Linked DNA regions of Homo sapiens. The protein of the gene in region 5 purifies or fractionates together with the protein of the main gene of each other region. This does not show direct contact. Each region holds a gene or a part of one and is shown on either strand. Other genes may lie near its edges. The genes, in order: PAG1, CCNY, CNTN1, EFNA5, GJB7, PALM3 and GNAO1.

What was found.
Region 1: the proteins of GJB7 (region 5) and PAG1 purify together in Homo sapiens (affinity purification with mass spectrometry; 2 studies listed by BioGRID and IntAct, with this or other methods). This does not show direct contact.
Region 2: the proteins of GJB7 (region 5) and CCNY purify together in Homo sapiens (affinity purification with mass spectrometry; 2 studies listed by BioGRID and IntAct, with this or other methods). This does not show direct contact.
Region 3: the proteins of GJB7 (region 5) and CNTN1 purify together in Homo sapiens (affinity purification with mass spectrometry; 2 studies listed by BioGRID and IntAct, with this or other methods). This does not show direct contact.
Region 4: the proteins of GJB7 (region 5) and EFNA5 purify together in Homo sapiens (affinity purification with mass spectrometry; 2 studies listed by BioGRID and IntAct, with this or other methods). This does not show direct contact.
Region 6: the proteins of GJB7 (region 5) and PALM3 purify together in Homo sapiens (affinity purification with mass spectrometry; 2 studies listed by BioGRID and IntAct, with this or other methods). This does not show direct contact.
Region 7: the proteins of GJB7 (region 5) and GNAO1 purify together in Homo sapiens (affinity purification with mass spectrometry; 2 studies listed by BioGRID and IntAct, with this or other methods). This does not show direct contact.

The regions. Positions count from the first base shown.
Region 1 is NC_000008.11:80,969,069-80,972,568, forward strand, and holds part of PAG1 (phosphoprotein associated with glycosphingolipid-enriched microdomains 1), read right to left. Parts: 3' UTR 1-3,500. UniProt on the Homo sapiens protein: Negatively regulates TCR (T-cell antigen receptor)-mediated signaling in T-cells and FCER1 (high affinity immunoglobulin epsilon receptor)-mediated signaling in mast cells.
Region 2 is NC_000010.11:35,339,509-35,343,008, reverse strand, and holds part of CCNY (cyclin-Y), read right to left. Parts: intron 1-3,500. UniProt on the Homo sapiens protein: Positive regulatory subunit of the cyclin-dependent kinases CDK14/PFTK1 and CDK16.
Region 3 is NC_000012.12:41,024,439-41,027,938, reverse strand, and holds part of CNTN1 (contactin-1 isoform 1 precursor), read right to left. Parts: intron 2,790-3,500; coding exon 2,603-2,789; intron 83-2,602; coding exon 1-82. UniProt on the Homo sapiens protein: Contactins mediate cell surface interactions during nervous system development.
Region 4 is NC_000005.10:107,422,938-107,426,437, forward strand, and holds part of EFNA5 (ephrin-A5 isoform 1 precursor), read right to left. Parts: intron 1-3,500. UniProt on the Homo sapiens protein: Cell surface GPI-bound ligand for Eph receptors, a family of receptor tyrosine kinases which are crucial for migration, repulsion and adhesion during neuronal, vascular and epithelial development.
Region 5 is NC_000006.12:87,326,479-87,330,535, forward strand, and holds the start of GJB7 (gap junction beta-7 protein), read right to left. Parts: upstream 2,801-4,057; 5' UTR 2,660-2,800; intron 1-2,659.
Region 6 is NC_000019.10:14,059,277-14,063,433, forward strand, and holds the start of PALM3 (paralemmin-3), read right to left. Parts: upstream 2,801-4,157; 5' UTR 2,705-2,800; coding exon 2,664-2,704; intron 1-2,663. UniProt on the Homo sapiens protein: ATP-binding protein, which may act as a adapter in the Toll-like receptor (TLR) signaling.
Region 7 is NC_000016.10:56,197,989-56,201,488, reverse strand, and holds part of GNAO1 (guanine nucleotide-binding protein G(o) subunit alpha), read right to left. Parts: intron 1-3,500. UniProt on the Homo sapiens protein: Guanine nucleotide-binding proteins (G proteins) function as transducers downstream of G protein-coupled receptors (GPCRs) in numerous signaling cascades.

The DNA.
Region 1 (3,500 bases), on a different chromosome or scaffold from region 5:
GTAAGGTTCAGCTTTCCTGATGCTTTTCACATTGCTTCTCCTCAAGACATGAGCATTGCTGCAGGCATGGCCATCTTCCAGGACATGGGCGGGTAGTGGCACATAGGAATTAAATCCTAGCATGGCTCCAGGAAAAACAAGACAAGTACTATACTCAAAAAGTAAAGTTAAAAAAAGCAAGCATGCTTAAGGGATGGGTCATGAACACCACATCAGGTTCATTTATGAGTCTTATATTAAAAATACATAGAAGCTTGTCAAAGGAATGCTCAAAATCCTCAACCCATAGACTCAGGCTTTTGGTCCCAGCCTCTTCTTCCAGAGAAGGGCACTGCTGTCTTTCAGGGAAGCCTTCACTACCTAAATGAGGAGCTAAAGATTAAAAAAAAAATTCTCTTTAAGCTTAAGAAAAGGAAATAGTTTGCTTTAAACTCATGGTTTCCAACTTGTTGAGTTAAAAACAAACCAAACCAAACCAGGACATGACAACAAGATAGTTCTGAACTGTAGGCTCTAGGGAGCAACTGGTCCTTCTTTTAGCTTTAACTGTGTCCTATTTAGAGTGCCTAACAGGTATACTAGGGGAACTTTAAAAAACTAAATGTATAAAGAGAATGAGCAGAGATATCTGTTCTGCTAATTTTGAAAAAAAGTTACACTCTAAAATGTCCATTCAAAGAATTAACTGTGATGACTTACAGCAAAGTTTTACAAAACCAAATGAAACACCCTGGCTCCTGAAGTATGTAGAAAATGGGAACTTCAGCAGCTGCACCTCCAATTCACCTATCCTAGGACCTAGAAGGTGCTTGGTTTCTCACTCCAAAGTCAGGCAGTTTGCTATAAATGGCCAAGTTATTCTCCTTATCTGGTAGCTCTACCTTTGCATGCTGAAGCACTCACAGTTTTCTTAGGTCCTGGGGGATCAGAGCAAACTGGCTGTAACTTGACATCATCCTTAGGCACTGTTTCCTGGGGGAGAGGGTGCAATGGCTTCATGGTGAAAACATTTTACACTCAATTTACTTTAAAAAGGTTTTTTTTTTGTTTTTGTTTTTGAGATGGAGTCTTGCTCTGTCGCCCAGGCTGGAGTGCAGTGTTGCGATCTCAGCTCATTGCAACCTCTGCCTCCCAGGTTCAAGTGATTCTCCTGCCTCAGCCTCCTGAGTAGTTGGGACTACAGGCACATGCCACCATGCCTGGCTAATTTTTTTTGCATTTTTAGTAGAGACAGGGTTTCATCATGTTGGCCAGGCAGGTCTCAAACTCCTGACCTCAAGTGATCCACCTGTCTCAGCCTCCCAAAGTGCTGGGATTACAGGCATGAGCCACTGCACCCGGCCTAAAAATGATTACTTCTTATAAAAAGGATTTCTTCCCCTTCACAACACTCAGCTTCCTTTTTCTTTCCTGGTAACTATGGGTCTGGTGTTGTCATAAGGATCTACCTTCCACATGCTGGACAGTGGGGGTTGCTGCTTGAGGAGACTCAGGCCAGATACAGATCACTGTGGGGAACACTAAGCTTACTTGGTTAGAGCACGGCACTAACATTTCTGCCTCTGTGAGTTTGATTCCACCACATAATTTTTTAAAAGTGCTTTTCCATGGCCCCTTAGTGTCAACCATTCTTACGAAAGATGTGAGCAACAGTGTACATGTTTTGGCAAAAGTCGTGACAAATAGCACCAGCATCTGCCGCCCTAGGTGGACCTGTGGCCTCATCTTGGCAGCCTGTGAGTTGGGCAGAGCTGTGACGAGGCATGGTTCTGTGCCGGCTGGCAGGGTCTGTGATATGGCAGCACTGTGATCCGTACTGGAAAGACATAATGGCATGTCCTGTGAACAGCAGATACAGAAGGCTGAGTGGGGAAGCGACCCAGGGGTATTGCCACACAAAGCGATAGGCCAGCTAAGTACCAGGAGACAAACTGAGGTGGGAGGAAATAGTGACTTCATGGCCTCATTCTTTAGACTTACTCCTTAAAAGGACTAGATCCGGGGAGGGAAAAGTAATCACAAAATGTTCAAGCTAATAAGAGATATTTTTGGTCTTAAAACTAAGGTTTAAAAATTCCCAGTACTGAAAACAACTTTCTCACTCTTTTGTGAATTGGACAATTTGACCATTATGAAGATCTTTTGAAACAATCAATGAAAATGCTACTAAGTGTCATGAATTATTTTTTAATATTTTTGAGTAAGGGGAGTACTTTAATACTGATTGGGCCCATGTAATAGACAATATGTCACTTTTGGTGTAACTATTTTTATGAGGAAAAAACATTAACAATGAAATGCCAATTCCTATTTATAACAGACCTTTTTTGTTTAGATATATTTCAAGTTTCCCCAGAAAATATGAGGCATGTTAATACAACACAATTATTTAAAAGGTAACAACATTAAAACATTTTACTGCTGCCAATGTAACATACAGACATCTGAGAAATGACAATTATCAACCTTTGTAATACATGATTACGCAAGGTGATATGAGACAACCCAAGGGTAGCACATTTTAAAAAATACCCACAGTATATAACTGGCAAGCCAAAAAAACTTCCTGTATTAACAGAAATGATTACTGAATTGAACGCTTTTTAAAAAATGTCTTTTAAGCAAAAATTGTATTTCTCTTTTCATGTTACATTAAGAATTTGGAATATTATTTTTCAGTTAAGTCAAAGAAGAACTTGAAAAAAATAATGACATACTTCACAAATAGTAGAGACTAGATGTAAACACAGACCTAAAAATGAGCAGTAGGATAAAAAAAACCATGAATGTTTGTTCTCTTCTGGACCATGATTTTAAATTTTAATTTGGTAATTCCAGATAAAGATTCTAATTTATCATGGTTTCTGGACTGATCTCTTTAAGTTAAACACTTTCAGTCTAAGTGTGTTCAACTGGCCTAAAGCCACTGTCAGGAAAAATGTATTTAGGAAAATATACAACACAGGGCAAGAAAATACTACTGTAGAATAAGGAATTTAGATTTCACTGCAAATAAAGCCATATTTGATATTAAAGACACATGTTCCTATTTTCACATCAGTCATTTATTAACACCAAACATTATACTTTAACTTTTCCCCATTACACAGTACAATAAGCCTGTCAAGATTTCCAGGAAGTAATCATCAGTACCTACTGTGCTTCCAGCAGCCAAAGCTAAGCTGGCTGGGTACCAGAAATCAACACCTTCAGGAGAATGGCATCACAAGATTGCATGGACTCATATTAACTATTACAAGGGGCACTGGAAAAAAAGGTCATTTGCTCATTTACAAAATCCTAATTGAACTAAAGCTCTGTAATTATAGCCATGGTATCAGACCAGCTTTTTCGCACATCCTATCACATCGCTGCCTGCTGATGTTTTACACTGCCTATAAAGTCTCATAATTTTAAAAGGGAATGAAACAGAATGCCACAGGTGACCGACCTCTGCTCCTGCTACTTGGGAGTCACGTTGTCTTGGCTTCGTCCTGGCT
Region 2 (3,500 bases), on a different chromosome or scaffold from region 5:
AAAAAAAAGGCAGGCAGGAAAGTAAAAGTCCTTACACAAAATATTGCTAGACAAAAGCATATAGGCAATAACTATGAATCTCTTGAAACAAAGTGGGCTGGGCCAGGCCATCAGGAGGTTCAGATTCTAGACACGGATCATTCTCTAATTAGCTGTCACAGGGCAGTTGAGGCATGGAGGCAAGCTGACAGCAGACCGAACCCCAGCTGCCACTAACAAACTGAGGAACCTTCCGCAAATGCCTTAACCTTTAAGGCTCAATTTCTTCACCTAGAAAATGGGGAGAATGATAAGAAGACTAAGAAAAACAATACAGGTCAAGTAATTAGCACGGTTGTTGGCCGAAAATTAACAAAGTAAATTCTACTACCATCATCCATGATCTGCATGACCTGGGCAAGAAACTACACCTCTCTGAGATTCAGTCTTCCCACCTGTAAAATGGGTGTGTGGAAGCAAACGACTCCCTGATTCTAAGTGAAAGAGAAACATGAAAAGTAAGCAGAGACAGGTCATGGACCCATGGTCAGTGCTATGGAGAATGGCTCTCTTGACAAATCTTTAAACTGCACTTCTCCACACTGCTAACTAATATGAAGTCACATGCTTGGTCGGGGTGTCTCCACATACCTTGCAGACAGCAGGGCTGATAAGTCTTAGCCTGGAAAGAAAGTCCACGGTATGTTCTGCCCACCAGGGCTGGTAATGTTAATGTGGGACCAAGATTCAAGAAAGAGTGCTGCAGAGGTGATGTTAAATAGATTGTAGAGACTCAAGGAAGCCAAGAGCAATATGCAAGCTCATCCTACAGGCACTTAGATTTCAAATTGCCCTGTGTCCCCACTCTTCTAACGGCAAGCAGTTTTGCCAGTTATCCCTCCGCTGCTTGGGATGAGTCCCTGAGGCTTCTAGCTTCTCTGGCTGTAGACAGCCAAAACACCATGTACCTATATCCCATTAGACACTTCATGTTTCAGACAAGAAAATCAACATAAGTGACTATGTTCATAATTGCAGATGTTCATCTAGTATTTTTTGGTTAATTGAGCATTTGAGTCTCAATTTGATCCTTAAGGATGTAAGGCCACAGCTAAAGTCATTCGTTGAAAGAAACAAGGAAAAAAGACTAAACATACCACATTATTAAACAGATTCCCATTAGCCAGGTTTCCTTTCAGCCTGGGTATGCTTTTTTTCTTTTTAAGCTTTAAAACCTTTAAGTTTCATTTTCAGTACTTCACCCTATCTGCTACCTCTCAGGTTAAACTACAAAGCCAAAAAGTTTCACATCCACGCTACTTTCATTATTACAAGTCCTCTTCATTCTCCTTGCCTCCTGTTTCCCCTCACCCAATAAACATACGCGATGATGTTTTCATTCACATCCTTCAATGGTTGGTTTCACTCAACAAATTCATTCAACAAATATTTATAGTATCTTCAAGGAATCAGGTGCTACTCTAGGCACTTGGTTACATCAGTGAACCAAACAATAAATGTTCTATTGGAACTTACATGCTAGTAGCTAGTAGCTAGTATTTATGTTTATACTTATATAGTATATCATAAAGTGTTAAGGAATAAAGAAACAGGAGTGCAGGGAATATGCATTGGGATTGCCAGTGGGCGGCAGAAAGGATGTTTAAAGGTGATTGGGAAGGCCTCCCTGAAAAGGTCAGGCTTGAACCAAGGCTGCAGGTGATAAAGGGACTCAGCCAAGAGAGCACATGGAGGACACTTCAGGCAGAGGGAGAGAACGGGGTGGAAGTTTGTGTCTGGTATGTTCCAGGAAGGGCAAGGAAGGAGGCCAATGTGGCTGGAATGAGCAAGCGACTGAGTGAGCTGATGGCAGGCAGATCCCAAGGGGCCCCAGCGACCACTGTAAGGCTTTTACTTGTGCAATAACGAGTCACTGCCGTTTTTGAGTGAAGGAATAAGTTCAAGTTTTTTAAAGGATCTTAGCCATGGCTGTTGTGTCGAGAACAGACTGGAGCAGGCAAGGGTGGAAGCAGGGAGACCAGGTGGGCTGGGGGAGATGGCAGCTGCTTAAATCTCCAGAAGAGCAGCAGCAGAGGTCTTGAGAGTGGTCAAAGTCTGATATATTCTGAGGGCAGAGAGCCACATTTTCCTACCAGATATGATACAGGACGAGGGAGAAAGTGAGTTGTCAAGGATGACAGGTAAACTATAAAAATGAAAAGAGTGGGCCAGGAGCAGTGGCTCACCCCTGTAATCCCAGCACTTTGGGAGACTGAGGCGGGCAGATCACTTGAGGTCAGGAGTTCGAGACCAGTATAACAAATATGGAGAAACCCCATCTCTACTAAAAATACAAAATTAGCCAGGCGTGGTGGCGCATGCCTGTAATCCCAGCTACTTGGGACGCTGAGGCAGGAGAACTGCTTGAACCCGGGAGGTGGAGGTTGCAGTGAACCAAGATTATGCCACTGCACTCCAGCCTGGGTGACAGAGCAAAACTCCATCTCAAAAAAAAAAAAAAAAAAGAATGAAGTTGCCATCAACCATTTTAAGGTAAAACCCTACAAGGACACTATGGTACAGCTGTTACAAGTATCCTGATTTATTTGGTCTCCTCACATTTTAAATTCTCTTTAGTCCCTCCCTCCCTTTCTCCTCCCACAGAAATAATCTAATCCTGGAAGTCTGGACTGAATAACTGCTGCAGACAGAAGAAGTTTATCCTTGAGAAAGTATGGATATGACTGCAATGACAAGACACCCTATCCCAGAAGGCAACCCCAGACTAGCTAACGTTTGATGGCTAAGTCAAGCAACAATGGAAAGTTTCCATTTGCCATGTATTGGCTGTGTGACTTTGGACAAGTCATTTCTCCTCTCAGTGACTCATTTCTTTGTCTTAAAGTAAGGGTAATATTACCCATAGGGTTACTGTGAGTTCTAAGTAAATGAATGGAATCCAAGTACTTAGAGCGGCAGCTGGTGACAGCTGCTACAGAGTAAGTAATACATAGGCTGCAATTATTACTATCATTTTTTTATTTTCCTAAAGAATTGTTCTGAAGATTACTATTGTTGTTATGTGTTGCTGTTTTTTCTCAATCTCTGAATGATTTTATAAGAAATAATACCTGGAAAGCATGAGTCCAATATCAATTTCAAAAACATGAATAACCTAACACTAAGATAAACTGAGCAAAAAGACACATTAAGTTGCCATTAAGCACCATAGACACCTAAGTTCCCAGACACTAAAATTACTGAAATTCTACAGGACAAGTATTACCCCTTCATGTGCCTGGTGACAAAGGGAAGAAAGCATGGATACATATGTCATATCTCTGTGATTTAAAGACACTAACCTATCATAGAAGACCCATGAACTTCAAACCTTTCTAAACCAGCTGGGTGGGATGTTTTTCAGGACATAAAAAATATGGTATTTGAGTACTTCAGCTTTTGATATATACTAGAGTCAATGATTCTTAAAATGTAGTTTTAAAATGTTTACTAATAACCTA
Region 3 (3,500 bases), on a different chromosome or scaffold from region 5:
AGTGCAACGACATGATCCCAGGTGATTATATAGCGTGAACCAGACCTTACTGAACTGATGATCCTTGGAGGCTGGCTAGGAGCTGTGAAAAGTAGTAATATGCAATCAGTGGTCACTATATCCAATCTCAATTCTGCATACTCTATTGCATCAGGTATTATAATGCTGATGATAATGACCACCACCATCTAGTTTTAATAAGTGTTTACTATATGCCAGGCACTATGCTAAGCACTTTACATCCATGAGTCCATTTAATGTACCCCATGGCCCTGTGAGCTAGGTAATATGACTTTTATTCTCTTCTCATCATGCTCCACTTGGGTTTCTTTCTCCACTAGTCTTTTGAAATTGCTATTTGCAAGGTCATCAATCACCTCCACTTGGTTAAATCTAATGTCACTTGATTATTCTTTTTTAAATTTAACATTTTTGGAGCATTTCACAGAATTGACCATCTTCTTTCTTGAATCTCTCATTTTTTCTTAAATTCAGATCTTAACAACTGGGTTTTCCTTCTACCTCATGGGCTGCTGCTTCCCATTATTCATGCTTAGCTGGCTCCCTCTGTCAACTTGTAACTGTTGGATGATTTAGGACTTCATCTATGTACCTTTTCTACTCTCTCTGTGGATCTTCCCTAAGTACTGACACTTAGGCCCATGGCTTTAAATATTCACAGTTCTGTCTCTAGCCCTAATCTCTCTTTCAACCTCTAGACATATGTGGCTATAGGTCTCTCTGTCTAGGCAGATATCAGCCTATTTCTACTTGAGTCTCTAAAAGATTTCTCAAATGTAATATAATCAAATGTAATACATTTTTCAAATGTAATATAATGTCGAGTATCCTCAAATCTTTCTCCAATGACTCTTTGCCATCGTCAGCAAATGGCACAACCAACCCCCTAGTTTCTCAAGCAGAAATTTGGTATTTAGTCTCTCATCCCACTCATTGCCAACATCCAAATTGGCAGCAAGTTGTCAACTCTGCCTACAGAAAACTTTCCACTTCTGTCTCCATTTTCACTTAGTGCTAGCCACTATCAATTCTCTCCTTGACTGCTGAAATAGTCTCCTAACTGGCTTTTCTGCTTCCACTGTTAACCCACCACAATCCATTTTCTGTACAGATGCCAGAATGACTTTTTTAAAAACAACATCATAAATTAGATATCACTCTCTGTTTTAAAATCTTTCAATGGCTTCTTATCATGTTTAGAAAGAACTCAAACTCATCACAATTACTTACAAGGTTCTCCGTAATTGGGCCCCAGAACACTTCCCCCTCCTTACTCAGAACCTATGCCCTGGACCCAGTGGCCTTTCCACACCTAAAATATTTTAAGTGCTCTTCACCTTAAGGTTTTGTACTACTTAGAGTGCAAAGAACCTTAAGGCTCTGCCTAAAGCTATTCACATAGTGGGTTCTTCTTATCATTTATCACTCAAATCATAGCTTAACTGGCATCTTCTCAGAGGCCTTTCCTGGCCACCCAATCAGAATTTCACTTTTATCTAAGTCACTTTACTTTTGTCTATTTATTCATTTTATTGCCCTGTCAGCTGCTTTAATCCCACTTATTTATTTGTCAGAGTTTGTGTTTGTTTGAAGTTTCTATCTCATTTCATTAGCTTGTAAACCATGCGAGAATAGCACCTTGGACTGGTTTGATCCCTTTTGTATCCTCACCATCAAGAATAGTGCTGAGCACACAGCATATTTTTGATGAATGAATAAATACATGAACAAATGGAAAAAGAACAAAAATGAATGCTCCTTTTACAAATTAGAAAACTGAGGTTTAAATAGGTAATTTATCTATTGTCATACATCTAGCAAGTGGCAGAGACAGATCTCAAACACATGTTAGACACCAAATTCTAGTTCTTGTCACTACATTCTGTCATCTCACTGGGAGAGTCTCTGTCCCAAAGTGAATTTCATAAATTTTCACACTCTAATGGTAATCACATCTTCAGATTCTTGAGACATTCCCTAGAGTCCTACATAAAAATTCTCCTTTTTACTTATTCCACTTGGGTTCAAGAACAGAGATATCAAAATGAACCCAGAGAGATTAGAATGACCAGAACGTGAGCAGGGATAGGCGGTCTTGTTTTATGAACCACCTAAAACATACAGTACTAGAACATACAGTAATAAGAGAGTAAGCATAATGCTACACACTTAACTTGCATTGCACTGTGCAATGACAGAGGTTTATAAATTAAAGCATGTAAAAATAAGCAGAATTTTAGTTTTCACATGCTGTTGATGTACTCCTATGAAAACAATGTTTAAATTAATAAGTACAGGGTAAAGACAAGTTAATGGCACAGAATTTGAGAGGACAGCCTTTACAAAAGGATAGTTCTCTAACTTTATTTCTATAATGGAATATTTAACGTGTGAGGGTATTTTTCACATTTTTTCATCATCTACAATAATTCACGTTTTAAGGGAAATCTTGTGTGGCTGTAAAGGATATTGAAAAATGTGCTCAGGTAGCTAGGTAGGAAATTTCCTTCAAATATATTCGTATCATGATTGAATCCAGTGGTAGTTTTTGACAAGTCTAAAAACAAAACGTGAGACTCACGTGCTTTCTTGGTGAAAGCCTCAATCATGTCACTTGGAGGTCCACACCCTGCACTATTGCAGGCCCCGACTTCTATAAAATACTGGGTGTCTGGCAGAAGGTTCTCGAGCCTGGCCGAGTACTCTTGGCTGGTGACTTGAACTCTGTTTGCAGCTTCTTCTTTGTCATGGGCAGCCCAATACCGAATCTGCAAACATTCAGGATGAGTTATATTTTGCCATGATTTAGAGTCTTCAGCTATGAAAAGTTCTCTTCAACTGGTTCTATTACCATTGGTGTTGGCTGATCATCATATTTTCAAATGTTTCTTAATGATATCTACCCTTTTATCAGCCTTAGAATATAGTAAAGCATACAGGGCAGGAATGACTAAAGATGCCAAAAGCGAATCAAAGTCTTACTTCATTGCCCAAAATTGTTTTACATTGACTAAAAAAAATAAAAAATAAAAAATTTAAAAATCCCAAAAACTTTGAAGCAGACTTACTTTCAAAATATAAAAGTGGTCTCCATTTGGAAGTATTTGTCACTATAATTTTTATCATTTATTTCCTGTTTTACTTCTGTTTGCATGATTTCAAACTTCTTCTGAGCCATTCTTAAAGCAGTTGGAGAGGAATATAATTTTGCTGGATAAAAATAGTTACTATGTGGCCTAGAATACGCTAAAGTAATACTTTCTTCTGCCTCCTTTCAGAAGTATCTAATGTTATTTCCTTTGAACCCATATAGAAGCTAGATATCAAAGAAATATATCTAATAACTGGATAAACTGTAGAAATTATTTACCCATAAAATAATTTTTAAAAAAGTTATCGATTTTTTCATTAGAAATGATTACTTTTGTCAAATAATTACAGGATTACTTTTCTCTTAAAGTTTAAGAAAAGTTATGGAT
Region 4 (3,500 bases), on a different chromosome or scaffold from region 5:
TCTGCATTTTCCCTAAAAATGTACCTTTAACTAGGATTTATTGAACATCTACTAAGCAAGGTATTGACCTGGACCACTGTACGGATGTTATCTTTTACCCTAATGCTGCAGACCCTCAGATAAAATATAATAAAATTAGGATATTAAAGCTCCAAGAATTTCTGAAGTCAATTATAATTACATTATTTTACAGATGTAGAGTTCAAACTCCAGATGGATGAAATGATTCTCTCAAGATCATACAGCTAGTTAGGTCAAGAAAAGGACCTGGGACTCAGTTTTCCTTACTTTATAAAAGCATATATTCAAATCAGTGTTTTATGGAATTACAAAGATAACTTATTAAAAGGATTTCCCTTTACCCCTTCTGATGTAAAAATAACTGCAAAACTTCTATCAAACATATTCTCATTAGGTTAATATTTAAGAGTATCATTTCTAAATTGAGTATTTTTTAAGTTTCTAAAAGGAGTATTAAAAAAAAAAAAAAGACAGGGTTTTGCTATGTTGCCCAGGCTGGTCTTGATTTTTTTGGCTCAAACAATCCTCCTACCTCAGCCTCCCAAACAGCTGGGACTACAGGCATGTGCTACCATATCCAGCTAAAATGAGTATTTTTGAATTTTTTAAAATTACTGTTTCCTTTAGGAAGTCTATATAAACAACTATTGTCTTAATCAATTGACTGGCAGTTCTGCAAATCTATCATTGATATAAATACCGCCAACTTTCTGTAATTACTTTAGTATGCCAATCTCTTACCAAAATAACTCCTGTAGATTAAAAACAGTATTTGTCAGATTCAGAGATGGCCCCAGTCTACCTCAGCAATAATCAGCAATTATAACAACTTAATATACTGTCTGTTCCCAAGGAAAGGAGAATATAGCATAGTTATTCTTGGGAGTTAAAATAAAGGGACTAGAACTGCAAAGCATGTTTTATTTTTAAAGTAAATTGGAAACTTCATTTAGGATATTTTCAACTACCACATTTTCTTAATTTTATAAAACTCAAAGACATTAAGAAAAAAAGAAATCTGGTTGAGGATAAGGCAAATGTTGATAAGAATCTTCTGACTCATGTCCTCTCTAAGTAATGAGGTGAATAGCTTGTTATGAAATCCTTGTCTTCCCTTCCTCCAAATCTGTGTTTGTATCTGAATTTTGGCACTCCACAGTCTTCACTATACTTAAGCCTACTCCTAGCACCATAAAGCAGGATGGCCAAAAAGCTATAGCTTTCTTTTTTCTTTCTTTCATTTTTTTTTTTTTTTTTTTTTTTTTTGAGACGGAGTCTCACTCTGTCACCCAGGCTGGAGTGCAGTGGCTCAATCTCGGCTCACTGCAACCTCTGCCACCCTGGTTCAAGTGATTCTCCTGCCTCAGCCTCCCAAGTAGCTGAGATTACAGGCTCCTGCCACCATGCCCAGCTAATTTTTGTATTTTTTTTTTTTTTTTAGTAGCGATGGGGTTTCACTCTCTTGGCCAGGCTGGTCTTGAATTCCTGACCTCATGATCCACCCGCCTCGGCCTCCCAAAGTGCTAGGATTACAGATGTGAGCCACTGTGCACAGCCAGCTTTCTTTTTTCTAGGGAAAGTAAGAAGAGATTTTAAGGCTATGAGGAGCTAAGAGGTACTGCTGTCCTAGCAAGAACATTCTGTAAAATTGACTGGTGGGCAGTGAAGCTTGTTCCTGAGATCAGCAATAGAGCATCTTGTAACGTAGTAAGTGTGAAAATAGCTATTTCCCAATCATCTTGTTCATTCCACACACATTAGGGAAGAGGAAAATTCAACTGAGGGCCAATTCTCCCCTAAGAATCCTTTAGTTTAATTATGACCACAGTACATTAAACGTCTGTAAGACAACCATGTTAGCTCTGCTGCTCCTGACTGCAGTGGTGGAAGAGAAGAAACCCTTTCATTACTAAAAAGACAGGGAAGGATGCCTTTGCGGGTCGAAAACATGGTTGAAAATTCAATTTAACTGAACACCAAGCCACTGTGCTTCTTGTTAATGAACATCTTTTTGCTGCTAATTTTGTGCTATTTTACCTTTCATTAAAAAAAGTAATTCAAGTTAAACTCAGCTGAACAGCAAAAAGCTCTTCATATTTTGAAGCATTTTGGAACAATTACTTTGACGGAAGCCCTTGACAGTTAAATGACTCCGTTAAATGAATGTTATAGAAGTCACATAATGATTTTTAGTGAAATATTGAATTTAACCACAAATGAGGAAAAACCAGTCATAAGCGCTATGGGTATATTTGAATAATAACATCTTGCTTATGAAGCTGAATGAATTCTATAATTTCTAATAATCAGGCAATCAACTAGTTAGTTAGTGGGTATGTTCCTCATCTTGGTGCTCTCTATTCATTTTTGATTTTTGCTTTTGCTGTTGTTTTTTTAATCTGAGAAGCCAGTAAGAAAATTTCAAAACTAGCAAGAATTTTCTCTTACATTGGTATAGTATTTTACAGTGAGACAACTAATGAGTTGCTGTCCCACAAATGAAGTCCTCCTCTTTCCTTTTTCTCATATGCTGAATGAGATTCTTTCACAAAGTAAAAAAGCAATAAAAGTCAAGAACATGCTGCCTGAGAAGTGTGAATTCACTGTATGCCAGTGCTTCCTGCATCTGTGGGACTCAATATTCCTTTTCTTGTTTTATGGATCAAATGTGAGATAGTATCAAGGCTTTTGCATGTTTTCTCATGACTAATGACTGAAATATGTACTGAAATAATAAAACTGGTACTGTTCAATTTCCTTTTTAAATTCAATTCCAATATAAGTGACAGTTATCATTGTGATGGTGAAATCTGACTTATTATAAAATTCTGTTTTCTGGAGAAGGAGAGGAGCTAGAAATCCCTGTAGACTTAAACCGTGTAAGTTGTGAGTGGGTAGGGACATTTGGACTGAAGAAATGAGTCAGAAAAAAGAATGTTCTTGTTTGTCTGGCAAGCTGGGGTGAAAGTCGATGCTAAGCATACTGAGTGGTATAACTTGGATCTCTACCCACTGTGTGTGGTTGCATTTCCTGATTCTTCCAAGCAGGTGAGGCACAACTTTCTCCATGTTCTCACTACTCCCTGAATTTATCTTCATCATCAGCAATTGTCGACTTATACTTTAATTGCCTATTTACATGTCTGCTCCCCAGTGAAAGGTCACTCCCTAAGAACAGGGAATATCTTTTCATCTTGCATCCCCCAGCATTTCTCAGCTCAGATTAAGCTGTCCAATAAATGTATTTTTTAACAAGTAAACTTTTAACCTCTTCAGTTGACAGTGAGAATACATGGGAAAGGCCAGATAGTTTAAATATAAATACTAGTTAAAGTCCAGATACACAACAAGCTGCTTAAAGTAGCTACCACCTATAATCTTGCTACTCAAAGTGTGGTCCACAGTTCAGTAGCAGCAGCAGCATCTGGGAGCTTCATACATCCAGAATTTCAGGCCCTGCCTTAAGACCTCCTGAGTCA
Region 5 (4,057 bases):
TTGGTTTCAAAGAACATCTTTATTTCTGCCTTCAGTTCGTTATGTACCCAGTAGTCATTCAGGAGCAGGTTGTTCAGTTTCCATGTAGTTGAGTGGTTTTGAGTGAGATTCTTAATCCTGAGTTCTAGTTTGATTGCACTGTGGTCTGAGAGATAGTTTGTTATAATTTCTGTTCTTTTACATTTGCTGAGGAGAGCTTTACTTCCAAGTATGTGGTCAATTTTGGAATAGGTGTGGTGTGGTGCTGAAAAAAATGTATATTCTGTTGATTTGGGGTGGAGAGTTCTGTAGATGTCTATTAGGTCTGCTTGGTGCAGAGCTGAGTTCAATTCCTGGGTATCCTTGTTGACTTTCTGTCTCGTTGATCTGTCTAATGTTGACAGTGGGGTGTTAAAGTCTCCCATTATTAATTTGTGGGAGTTTAAGTCTCTTTGTAGGTCACTCAGGACTTGCTTTATGAATCTGGGTGCTCCTGTATTGGGTGCATATATATTTAGGATAGTTAGCTCTTCTTGTTGAATTGATCCCTTTACCATTATGTAATGGCCTTCTTTGTGTCTTTTGATCTTTGTTGGTTAAAAGTCTGTTTTATCAGAGACTAGGATTGCAACCCCTGCTTTTTTTTGTTTTCCATTTGCTTGGTAGATGTTCCTCCATCCTTTTATTTTGAGCCTATGTGTGTCTCTGCACGTGAGATGGGTTTCCTGAATACAGCACACTGATGGGTCTTGACTCTTTATCCAATTTGCCAGTCTGTGTCTTTTAATTGGAGCATTTAGTCCATTTACATTTAAAGGTAATATTGTTATGTGTGAATTTGATCCTGTCATTATGTTAGCTCGTTATTTTGCTCGTTAGTTGATACAGTTTCTTCCTAGTCTCAATGGTCTTTACATTTTGGCAATGGATGGTACAGGTTGTTCCTTTCCATGTTTAGTGCTTCCTTCAGGAGCTCTTTTAGGGCAGGCCTGCTGGTCACAAAATCTCTCAGCATTTGCTTGTCTGTAAAGTATTTTATTTCTCCTTCACTTATGAAGCTTAGTTTGGCTGGATATGAAATTCTGGGTTGAAAATTCTTTTCTTTAAGAATGTTGAATATTGGCCCCCACTCTCTTCTGGCTTGTAGAGTTTCTGCCAAGAGATCCGCTGTTAGTCTGATGGGCTTCCCTTTGTGGGTAACCCGACCTTTCTCTCTGGCTGCCCTTAACATTTTTTCCTTCATTTCAACTTTGGTGAATCTGACAATTATGTGTCTTGGAGTTGCTCTTCTCGAGGAGTATCTTTGTGGCGTTCTCTGTATTTCCTGAATCTGAATGTTGGCCTGCCTTGCTAGATTGGGGAAGTTCTCCTGGATAATATCCTGCAGAGTGTTTTCCAACTTGGTTCCATTCTCCCCGTCACTTTCAGGTACACCAATCAGACGTAGATTTGGTCTTTTCACATAGTCCCATATTTCTTGGAGGCTTTGCTTGTTTCTTTTTATTCTTTTTTCTCTAAACTTCCCTTCTCGCTTCATTTCATTCACTTCATCTTCCATCACTGATACCCTTTCTTCCAGTTGATCGCATCAGCTCCTGAGGCTTCTGCATTCTTCACGTAGTTCTTGAGCCTTGGTTTTCAGCTCCATCAGCTCCTTTAAGCACTTCTCAGTATTGGTTATTCTAGTTATACATTCTTCTAAACTTTTTTCAAAGTTTTCAACTTCTTTGCCTTTGGTTTGAATTTCCTCCCGTAGCTCGGAATAATTTGATCGTGTGAAGCCTTCTCTCAGCTCGTCAAAGTCATTCTCCGTCCAACTTTGTTCCGTTGCTCGTGAGGAACTGCGTTCCTTTGGAGGAGGAGAGGCACTCTGCTTTTTAGAGTTTCCAGTTTTTCTGCTCTGTTTTTTCCCCATCTTTGTGGTTTTATCTACTTTTTGTCTTTGTTGATGGTGATGTACAGATGGGTTTTTGGTGTGGATGTCCTTTCTGTTTGTTAGTTTTCCTTCTAACAGACAGGACCGTAAGCTTCAGGTCTGTTGGAGTACCCGGCCGTGTGAGGTATCAGTCTGCCCCTGCTGGAGGCTGCCTCCCAGTTAGGCTGCTCGGGGGTCAGGGGTCAGGGACCCACTTGAGGAGGCAGTCTGCCTGTTCTCAGATCTCCAGCTGCGTGCTGGGAGAACCACTGCTCTCTTCAAAGCTGTCAGACAGGGACATTTAAGTCTGCAGAGGATACTGCTGTCTTTTTGTTTGTCTGTGCCCTGCCCCCAGAGGTGGAGCCTACAGAGGCAGGCAGGCCTCCTTGAGCTGTGGTGGGCTCCACCCAGTTCGAGCTTCCCAGCTGCTTTGTTTACCTAAGCAAGCCTGGGCAATGGCGGGCGCCCCTCCCCCAGCCTCACTGCCGCCTTGCAGTTTGATCTCAGACTGCTGTGCTAGCAATCAGCCAGACTCCGTGGGCGTAGGACCCTCCGAACCACGTGCGGGATATAATCTCGTGGTGCGCCATTTTTTAAGCCCGTCGGAAAAGCGCAGGATTCGGGTGGGAGTGACCCGATTTTCCATGTGCCGTCTGTCACCCTTTTCTTTGACTAGGAGAGGGAACTCCCTGACCCCTTGCACTTCCCGAGTGAGGCAATGCCTCGCCCTGCTTCGGCTCTCACATGGTGCGCGCACCCACTTACCTGCGCCCAGTGTCTGGCACTCCCTAGTGAGATGAACCCGGTACCTCGACTGGAAATGCAGAAATCACCCATCTTCTGCGTTGCTCACTCTGGGAGCTGTAGACCGGAGCTGTTCCTATTCAGCCATCTTGGCTCCTCCCCTCTTGTTTTGTTTTTAGACAGAGTTTCGCTCTGTCGCCCAGGCTGGAGTGCAGTGGCACGATCTCGGCTCACTGCAACCTTCACCTCCTGGGTTCAGGCGATTATTCTGCCTCAGCCTCCCGAGGAGCTGGGATTACAGGCCCGCACCACCACACCCAGCTAATTTTTGTATTTTTAGTAGAGACGGGGTTTCACCATATTGGCTACGCTAGTTTCAAACTCCTGACCTCAAGTGATCCTGACCTCAAGCAATCTACCCGCTTCGGCCTCCCAGAGTGCTGGGATTGCAGGCGTGAGCCACCCTGCCCGGCAGGAAAGATACTTTTTTAGAAAGTATGTTTTACCTTAAAAACAACATATATATAATCAATTTTTAAAACTTAAGTGATTATAATTTTTTTTCTTAAATATTGTAATATACATGCAAAGGCCTTTTATCAATTCAAGAGTAAGATGGGGTGAGGTGGTGAAATATTGGTGGGCTGGTAATTGGGAGACCTAGGTGATCGCACCCTCCTGGTAAGGACATCTCCTTGGGTCTGGGTTTCTCAGAAAGGGGTTTAGAAGGGGGAGTTAGACTAAATGGTGAGTATGAAAGTAGCTACCATTCATTGAACATCTGCATCTTTTAAAATGTGTCATCTTAATTAATGCACACATTTAGTACCTATCTATGCAATAGATAGTATTGCTCCTTTTATAAAGGTAGAAACTGAGAATCAGAGTTGTCACTTAAAGACACACAGCTTATAAGTAGCAAAGTGAGAATCTGAGGTTATGCTATGTTTCCCCTCAAGCCATGAAGTCCTCTGATTCTATCCCAAACTTGTTTAAACTAATTTAAATTATTTTTAAGGTTTTCTGCCCCAAAGTTCAAGTTAGTTTCTTAAGTATTAAGATAATGTGGCATGTGAAACTATAAAAAAGTGTATTATACTTTCATTAAAATATTTTGCCCATTTTATAATTCTCTGTCTTTTAAAGGAAATGCTTTCATTATTAATAAGGTTCCTGCTCGTTAACATTTTATGATTCTGGTCATTTTGTTTTGTCTTCTATTGAGGTGCTTATTTCTAAAATGTATGTTTGAAGATTAAGTGTTTCCCTCAAAGTAATTCTTATATTCTTTATATCTTAGTCTAATTTGCATGTACAATATATTAATAGGTAGTCAAGTATTCTGGAATAACTCCCTGAGCAAGAATTTTGCTAAAGAAGGGAAAATCATTCAAAAATGACTAGTCCTGACTCTCGGTG
Region 6 (4,157 bases), on a different chromosome or scaffold from region 5:
CCCCTTTGCACCTGGGAAGAGTCTGGGCGGGGGGCGAGGGTCTTGGGAGGGGAACTGAGCAGTGACCACGACTGGTGAGGCTAAAGCCCTCCCTAAATCTGGCTTTGTCTCTCTCAGCCTCAGTTTCCTCATCTGTAAGATGGGCAGGAATAGCTTGACCACCCTGTCCTTGCCACCCCCGATCTCAGAGGACGCTTGCAAGGAGCTATTCATGCAGGGAAAAGCTTAGGGTACAGTGCTACAAAAATAGTCCCATTGTTTATGAATAATCATAATTTATATAATTCCATGATGAATAATATGTATGATTAATTATAATAACCATCTCCAGTCCAACCTGCAGAAACTCTCAAATGCCACCAGGCCCCTAACAGGCTGTGTGCCTCTTTCTCTTCCCAGTCCCACACCCTCTCTGGACCTCAGCTCCTACCCAGAATTTCTCAAGCGCTGGGGGGGCAAGCGAGTCTGTGGCCCTCCCACTGTTGCCATGGTAACCCCAGAGCTGCCTCCTCCACCTGCTAACCCCCCTCCCTGGGGACAAGGATCACTGGGTCACTCTGCCTAGGACTGGACTCTGAGCTGGGAGGAGGGGGACTTGCCATTTAAGGTTTAACTCGAGATTCCCCTGTCATTGTCTTCCTCAAAACATCTCTACTTCTCAGCCTCCAGAGTGGCCTCTGGACCCACTTAGGCTCCCGTGGAAGCTGGAGGGTGACTGTCATACTGCAGGATGATTAGGGACAGTCAGTGTCACACCAACCTTATCAACACAGACATGCATTGGGCACCCCTGACTATGTTGCTATGTTGACCACGTGTCACAGGCCAGTATCTAGAAAGCGATGTCTCTCTGCCTGTCATCTCCACCGGCATGGACGGGCGCTGATCAAACCCTCAAACATTTATTAATTTGAACAGTCACCCTACTGGGTAAGCCTCATTGCCTGAACTCCAGCTAGGACCTTCCAGATCTTCTGTGGCCACAACGTGAAGGCTATTAGCACTTATAGTGCTATATATATGATATATATATACTATATATAGCATATAGTGTTCTAAGTGCCCCACGGGGTTTCCGCTAGGTTCCCACAGCCACCTCTGCCTCCCCCTCCCTGCCTCTATCATGACACAGTGGAGTCAACTCTTTGCTGAGTTGACATTCCAGCTAAGAACAAAATCAGCCAACCATTAGCTAGCCCGTAACACGTGCCAGGTGCAATGTAATTCACTGAATCCTCCCAACGACTCTAGGAGGTAAGCTATATGAATGTGTCCATTTTATGGATGGGAAAACTGAGGTTCTGAGAAGTGGCAGCAGTGTCCAAGGTCATGGAGCCAAGATCAGAACTTGAAGCTATCAGATCCAAAATACTGAGAACACAGCTGGCGAGGGGGGTGGGGGTGCAGGTCTAGGAATCCCCATCAAGGTAGCTAAGAGAGCAGCCTGGAGACCCTGAATGCTGTTTGGGGCAAGGAATTGAAGTCATGCTCTTTCTTTTTTTGAGTCGGAGTCTCGCTCTGTCACCCAGGCTGGAGTGCAATGGCTCAATCTCAGCTCACTGCAACCCCCGCTTCCTGGGTTCAAGTGATTCTCCTGCCTCAGCCTCCTGAGTAGCTGAGATTACAGGCGTGCACCACCAAGCCCGGCTAATTTTTGTATTTTTAGTACAGATGGGGTTTCACCATACTGGCCAGGCTGGTCTCGAACTCCTGACCTCAGGTGATCTGCCCGCCTCGGCCTCCCAAAGTGCTGGGATTACAGGCGTGAGCCACCGTGCCCGGCCACGAAGTCATGCTTTGCAAGATATCCCAAAGGAAGCCCAGATTCTGTGCTTATAGGTTTGCCCCTGGGGGAGGGCTGAAGTCCCGTGGTCTCCTGTACCACCCCCAAGATGTAATCTCCCTGCCTCTTCCTTGCTGGGGGGGATCGGGTTCCCATTGCTAAGCAACCAGGTTTGTAGTTGGTGAATAATGCAATGGAGGACCTAGAAGGGTGAGGAACCGAATTGGGGTCCCTAGTGTGGGGGGAAGCCCCTTTTCCAAAACTCTTTCCAAACCTCTGAAGCCCCCTCTACCCTTTTAACCTTAAAAAACTCTCACCCCTCAGCTATGAAAAGACTTCACACACCCCATTCCATCTTGCTTATCTCTAACTAACTCTGGAAGAACAACGTAGGCGGCCTGGGCTTCTGGCCACCCGCAAGAGTTGGTGGCCATTTCATGAAGGAGGTCATCCTTGCAATGTTGCCATTGTCTTTCTCAGGCTGGGAGCTTTTAACTTCTGTTGGATCTCAAGCCTTTTCTCCCACCTTGGACACTGACTTTAGGGGCAAAACGTGGAACCCAGTGACCCTGACCTTCCCCACTCCCTGCACCACAGCAGTAGCCCCACCCCCTGGCTGGACTTTGGGTTCTCAGCCCTGGCAGCGGAAAATCCCCGAAGAGGAAGGGGCAGGGGGAGCCTATATCTCTCTCCCACCCCTTGACTCTTTAAGGAAGGGTGACACTGATGAGCCTATGGGGTTGGCTAGCCAACCCCTCCACTCCCCGGGTCCCCTTAGGAGAGACCACTGGAGCTCTCGGCTCCCAGACAAGGCCAGCATCCCCCATGAGCCCCTCCCAAGGCCCTGCCCACCAGCCCCCCTGACCCCCCAGACACTTACATGGGTGTGGCCAGAGACCACACCTGGCTCTGCAGGGCCATCTCTGCCCAGAAGTTCACTTTCTGGTCTCCGAGTTCTGGACCCACCACCCGCTTGCCTGAAGGTGCCCCGGAGGCTGTGACTTGGCTGCCTGGAGTGGGGGGGGGCTGCGGGCGGGCACCGGGAGAGCAGGTCCAGCGGGTTTGGGCCAGGGAGGCGGTAGGCACACCAGAGAGGGGGGCTGGGGGCTGGAGGGCAGTTCTGGGGAGGTACTATCAGCTGTCCTGATAAATTATTCACCAGCCTCTGGCCTCTTTGTTGCACTCAGCTGCCTCCCGGAAAACACTTTCACACACGCGTGGTCAAGCGTGGGGGTGAGAGTACTGAGTCGGTGACTCCCCCTGCCACCAGAGAATGGCATTTCTACTTGGCACCCCAATCATCTTGAGTCTGACTGCCTGCCAAGACTCACCCACAGGAGAGCACCATTGCATAGCACACAGGCTGGAGACTGTTTTATTTTTTTAGAGATGGGGGTCTCACTCTGTTGCCCAGGCTAAAATGTAGTAGTGCGATCATAGCTCACTGCAGTTTCAGACTCCGGGGCGCAAACAATCCTCCCTCCTCGGCTTCTCAAAGTGCTGGGATTACAGGCATGAGCCACCACATCTGGCAGATAACATTTTTTAAAATTATTTTTTAAGAACAGGCACAGTGGTGCATATGTGTAATCCTAGCACTTTGGGAGGCCCAGGTGGGTGGATCACCTGAGGGCGGAGTTCGAGACTGGTCTGACCAACATGGTGAAACCCCGTCTCTGCTAAATACAAAAAAAAACTTAGCCGGGCATGGTGGTGCATGCCTGTAACCTCCGCTACTTGGGAGGCTGAGGCAGAAGAATCACTTGAACCCAGGTGGCAGAGGTTGCAGTTAGCCAAGATCGCACCATTGCACTCCAGCCTGGGCAACAAGAGCAAAACTCTGTCTAAAAAAAAAAAAATTACTTTTTGAGCCAGGCACGGTGGCTCACGCCTGTAATCCCAGCACTTTGGGAGGCCGAGGTGGGCGGATCACGAGGTCAGGAGTTTGAGACCAGCCTGGCCAACATGGAGAAAGCCTGCCTCTGCTAAAGATACACATTAGCCAGGTGTGGTGGCACACCTGTAGTCCTAGCTACTCGGGAGGTTGAGGCAGGAGAATTGCTTGTACCCAGGAGGCGGAGATTGCAGGGAGCTGAGATCATGCCACTGCACTCCAGCCTGGGTGACGGAGCAAGACTCCGTCTGAAAAAAAAAAATTACTTTTTGATCGTGGTAAAATACACATAACAAAATTTACCATTAGTGGCATTTAGTATGTTCACAATATTATGCAATCCTCACCACTGGTTCAGAATATTTTCATCAACCCAAAAGGAAGTGATCACTACTCATTCCCCTGCCTCCCGTGCCTGGCAACCACCAATCTGTGTCCATCTCTATGGATTTGCCTATTCTGGACTTTTTGTTTTTCTTT
Region 7 (3,500 bases), on a different chromosome or scaffold from region 5:
AGAATAAAATCCAAAGTCCTTAGCACAATAGATAAGGCCTTTCATGATCTGGTTTCTGTCCAATCTTTCATTCCTCATTTCTTAACACTCCTCTTACATATTTTGCTCTAGTCAAATCAAACTATTTTACACTCCTAGCATGTTCCATGTGGTGACATCTTAATGCCTTTACACATGCCAGTCCCTCTGCCTGGCATTCCTTTTTTTCGACCTGGTGAACTACCACTTGTTTTAAAGGCTCAGTTCACATGCCATTGTCTCTTGGCTGTCTTCCCTGAACTTCCTGCCTAGAGAAGGTGCCTTCTGTTCTACCATAGCACACTGTGTATACAGACATTGTGGCCCTTCCTACCTGAAGTGCAAGAGTCTTTTTTGTGTAGCTCCCTCCAGACCATGAGTTCCTTCAGGACAAGGACTGAGGCCTTCCTCTCTACTTCCATGACACTGTGTGTATGCTACCCACAAAATAGGCAATCATAAATGCTTATGGATGGACAGATGGATGGATCCCCTACCATCCTGTCTTTCCATAGTTCTCCAAGACACCTGCCTCCACCAAAGCCAGAGCCTTCTCTCTGTTGCAATCTGAAAATGGCCCCCATTTTTGAGGCGGTAATGAAAAATCATTTCAAGGCCTGTCCAGATGGTTGCTAGGGAATACTCTGGTATCCAAATCAATGTGATATATGATGACCATTACTACCACCTCCAGAAGGAACTCAGCACCAATTAGGCACTTTCTATTCTCTCAGCCACTGACCTCAACCACAGCTGGCACCATCAACATCTGGGTGTGAGGTCGTAGACTGCCAGGTCTCTACTGCCCATACTGGGGGTGGTCTAGTAAGAAAGGTGTGGAGTTACAACGAAAAGAACACAGGTTTTAGAATTAGACAAATCATTGTCTGAATACAACACTGTCACCTACTAAGCTGTGTGGCCTTGAGCAAGCCACCTTACTTCTTTGAACCTCACTTCCTCATCTGTAAAATGGAATTGATGACTATATTTGCTCACAGGTTGATAAACAAATGAATATAATAGATTGAAAATGATGAACACATTCCATGGCCACCAAAAGCTTTCAACATGATTATTTTGGTTTATGGAGAATAATAAGGTTCATTCCTTATATACCTCGTATTCTTCCTTTTCTTTAACTAACGTTTATTAAGACCTCCTTTGTGCCAGGCATTGGGCATGGTGCTGTACTATGAGCAAAAATAAGTAACATCCTTGCTTCAGGGAGCCCTGGTGGGAAGGGACACCCAGGCTAGCAAGGGATACAGACAAATAAACACCTAATTAATTCACAATGTGCAATATGCATTAGTGCTCTGAGACCCTGGGGTCAGGTGACCCCAGGATCAATTTTAAAGCATGGAGAAGCTATTCTCATAAGTAACAATATTCTACAGAAAACCTATCTGTTGGCTAAGACACAGGCAGAGAATCCAAGGTAAATTGTTAGCTATGAAATCCTAGTCTTATGTATTATTCTCCCTTTCTCTTTTCTCCATTCTACTTATTTCTAGGATGGTTGACAAATCAAGAGAGTAAGGGGCCAAATTCAGGGCACCAACTATTAGCCTTGCAAGATTTTATTTTACTTTAATTTTTTGGTGCTATGAAAAGCACAATGTTTTTCCTCTTCTCTGTAAAGAAAATTAGAACTAAAGATGGCTCAGCAGATAAAAGCTGTGGGTGGTAAATACTCCCACTATTCCCCACCGCCTTTCAGGCTTCTAAGTTTCTCTTTGCATTTACTGCATCTTAGAGCTGGAAACCCGAAAGAGCCCTGAGAAATTCTATGGTGAAAACCCACATCCCAATTAACAGATGAACAAATTGAGGCCCAGGGTGGCCAAATGATCTGCCCAAAGTTAAATGAGAGAGTGAATCAAAATTAAAATACAGTTCTCCTGAGCCTCCCCTTTTACTAGTCTGCAAATCTCTCTGCTCCCTGGGTTTTAGGCACCTTAACCCAGGCAAGTTTCTTCATATGCAGCCATTTCTGGTGAACGCTAGGGCTGTCTCCACTTCTGAGCATCCTGGAAGCCACGGAAAAACCACTTCTCTTCTAATGTCACTGGCTCTCTCCTCCCAGAAACATCCTGTTTCTTACTAATGAGATACTTTCAGATCCTCCTCTTTGGTTTAAGAACCATGTCTGCATGAAAAGTTTGGTTAGAGGTGTTTTTCTCAAATTGACTCTCAGAACTACAAATTTCCTGGCTGACAAAGCTCTGTGGCTGAGGTTGCTATTCTGCAATTAACTTAGTCTTAAAAGAACTTTCATGGATACCCTACACCCCCATGGGATAAAACCATAATTCATGCTTTAATATTGAGAACATCAAGACCCTGAAAACAAAGGGAATTCCCAATTTCATACACCGTTGACAACAGGAAGGGAGCCTGGGGTAGCCCTGGTCCAACTCTTTCAGGAAACCGAGCCCTCGGAGGGGCAGAGGCAGAGCTACTGACCTGGACTCCTGGTTCAGTGCTCTTTCCCACCCTTTGAAATGTCACCCCAGCTCTTGGGCTGAAGCAGCTGCGCCATCAAAAATGTCACATCAGTTATGACAACACAGTTTGTTATATAACTGGTGCTGCAGAGCAGGCAAGGGGAAGAAGCCATGAACATGAACCACAGCACCCCCCTTCTGCTTCTCAGGGTGGCTAAGTCCCACATACTTACTTGACAAGAGAACTCCACATGGGAAGGGAACACCCACTAATCAAAGGAATAAAAACTAGAGCTAACATTTGTATAATGATTTCTACATTCTAGACACTACTCAAAGCACATTTCATATGTTAACTCATTTCATGCTCTCCACAATCCTATTAGTAGTTATTTTCATTATCAGTCCCATTTTACAGGTAAGGAAACTGAGGCACCAAATGTTATGGGCCTTGTGTAAGGTCACATATTTAGTTAGCAGTAGAGCCAAGATTTGAAGCCAGGCAGCCTGTTTGCAGAGTCTATGCTCTTAACCAACTCTCAATTTTAGAGAAGCATGCTAAACTGCTTCTCTAAACACAAGAAACTACCTATTTATCTGAACCAGTTAACAAGCCACTGCTCTCTCCTCTCCTTCCCCTCAGTGCTAATCACAGATCTGTTGGACAGCTTCCTTTCTACCAATGCTGTGTGTGAATGAGAGGGATGGAAGAAAATAAGAATGTGACACAGATTTGAAGAAATTCTTAGGATGGAGTTCATTTGAGCATCTTCAAGCTTTTTAAGATGATGCAATCAGTAAGAAAGTGAGGTGAGTGCTCTTCTCAACATCTGCCATTTGTAAACCCACACTCTGTGGGTATGTACAAACAGGCACACTTTCTTTTTTCAGAATCAAAAGTTTTCTCTATTAGTGTCAATTCTGAGGGTAACTCTTTCCAAAATGTGGTTTTTTTTGTTTTGTTTTGTTTTTTTCAGTTTGGAATCACCCCTTCACCAGCTTTTCTGTTGTCTTTCAGATCAAGATGTATTC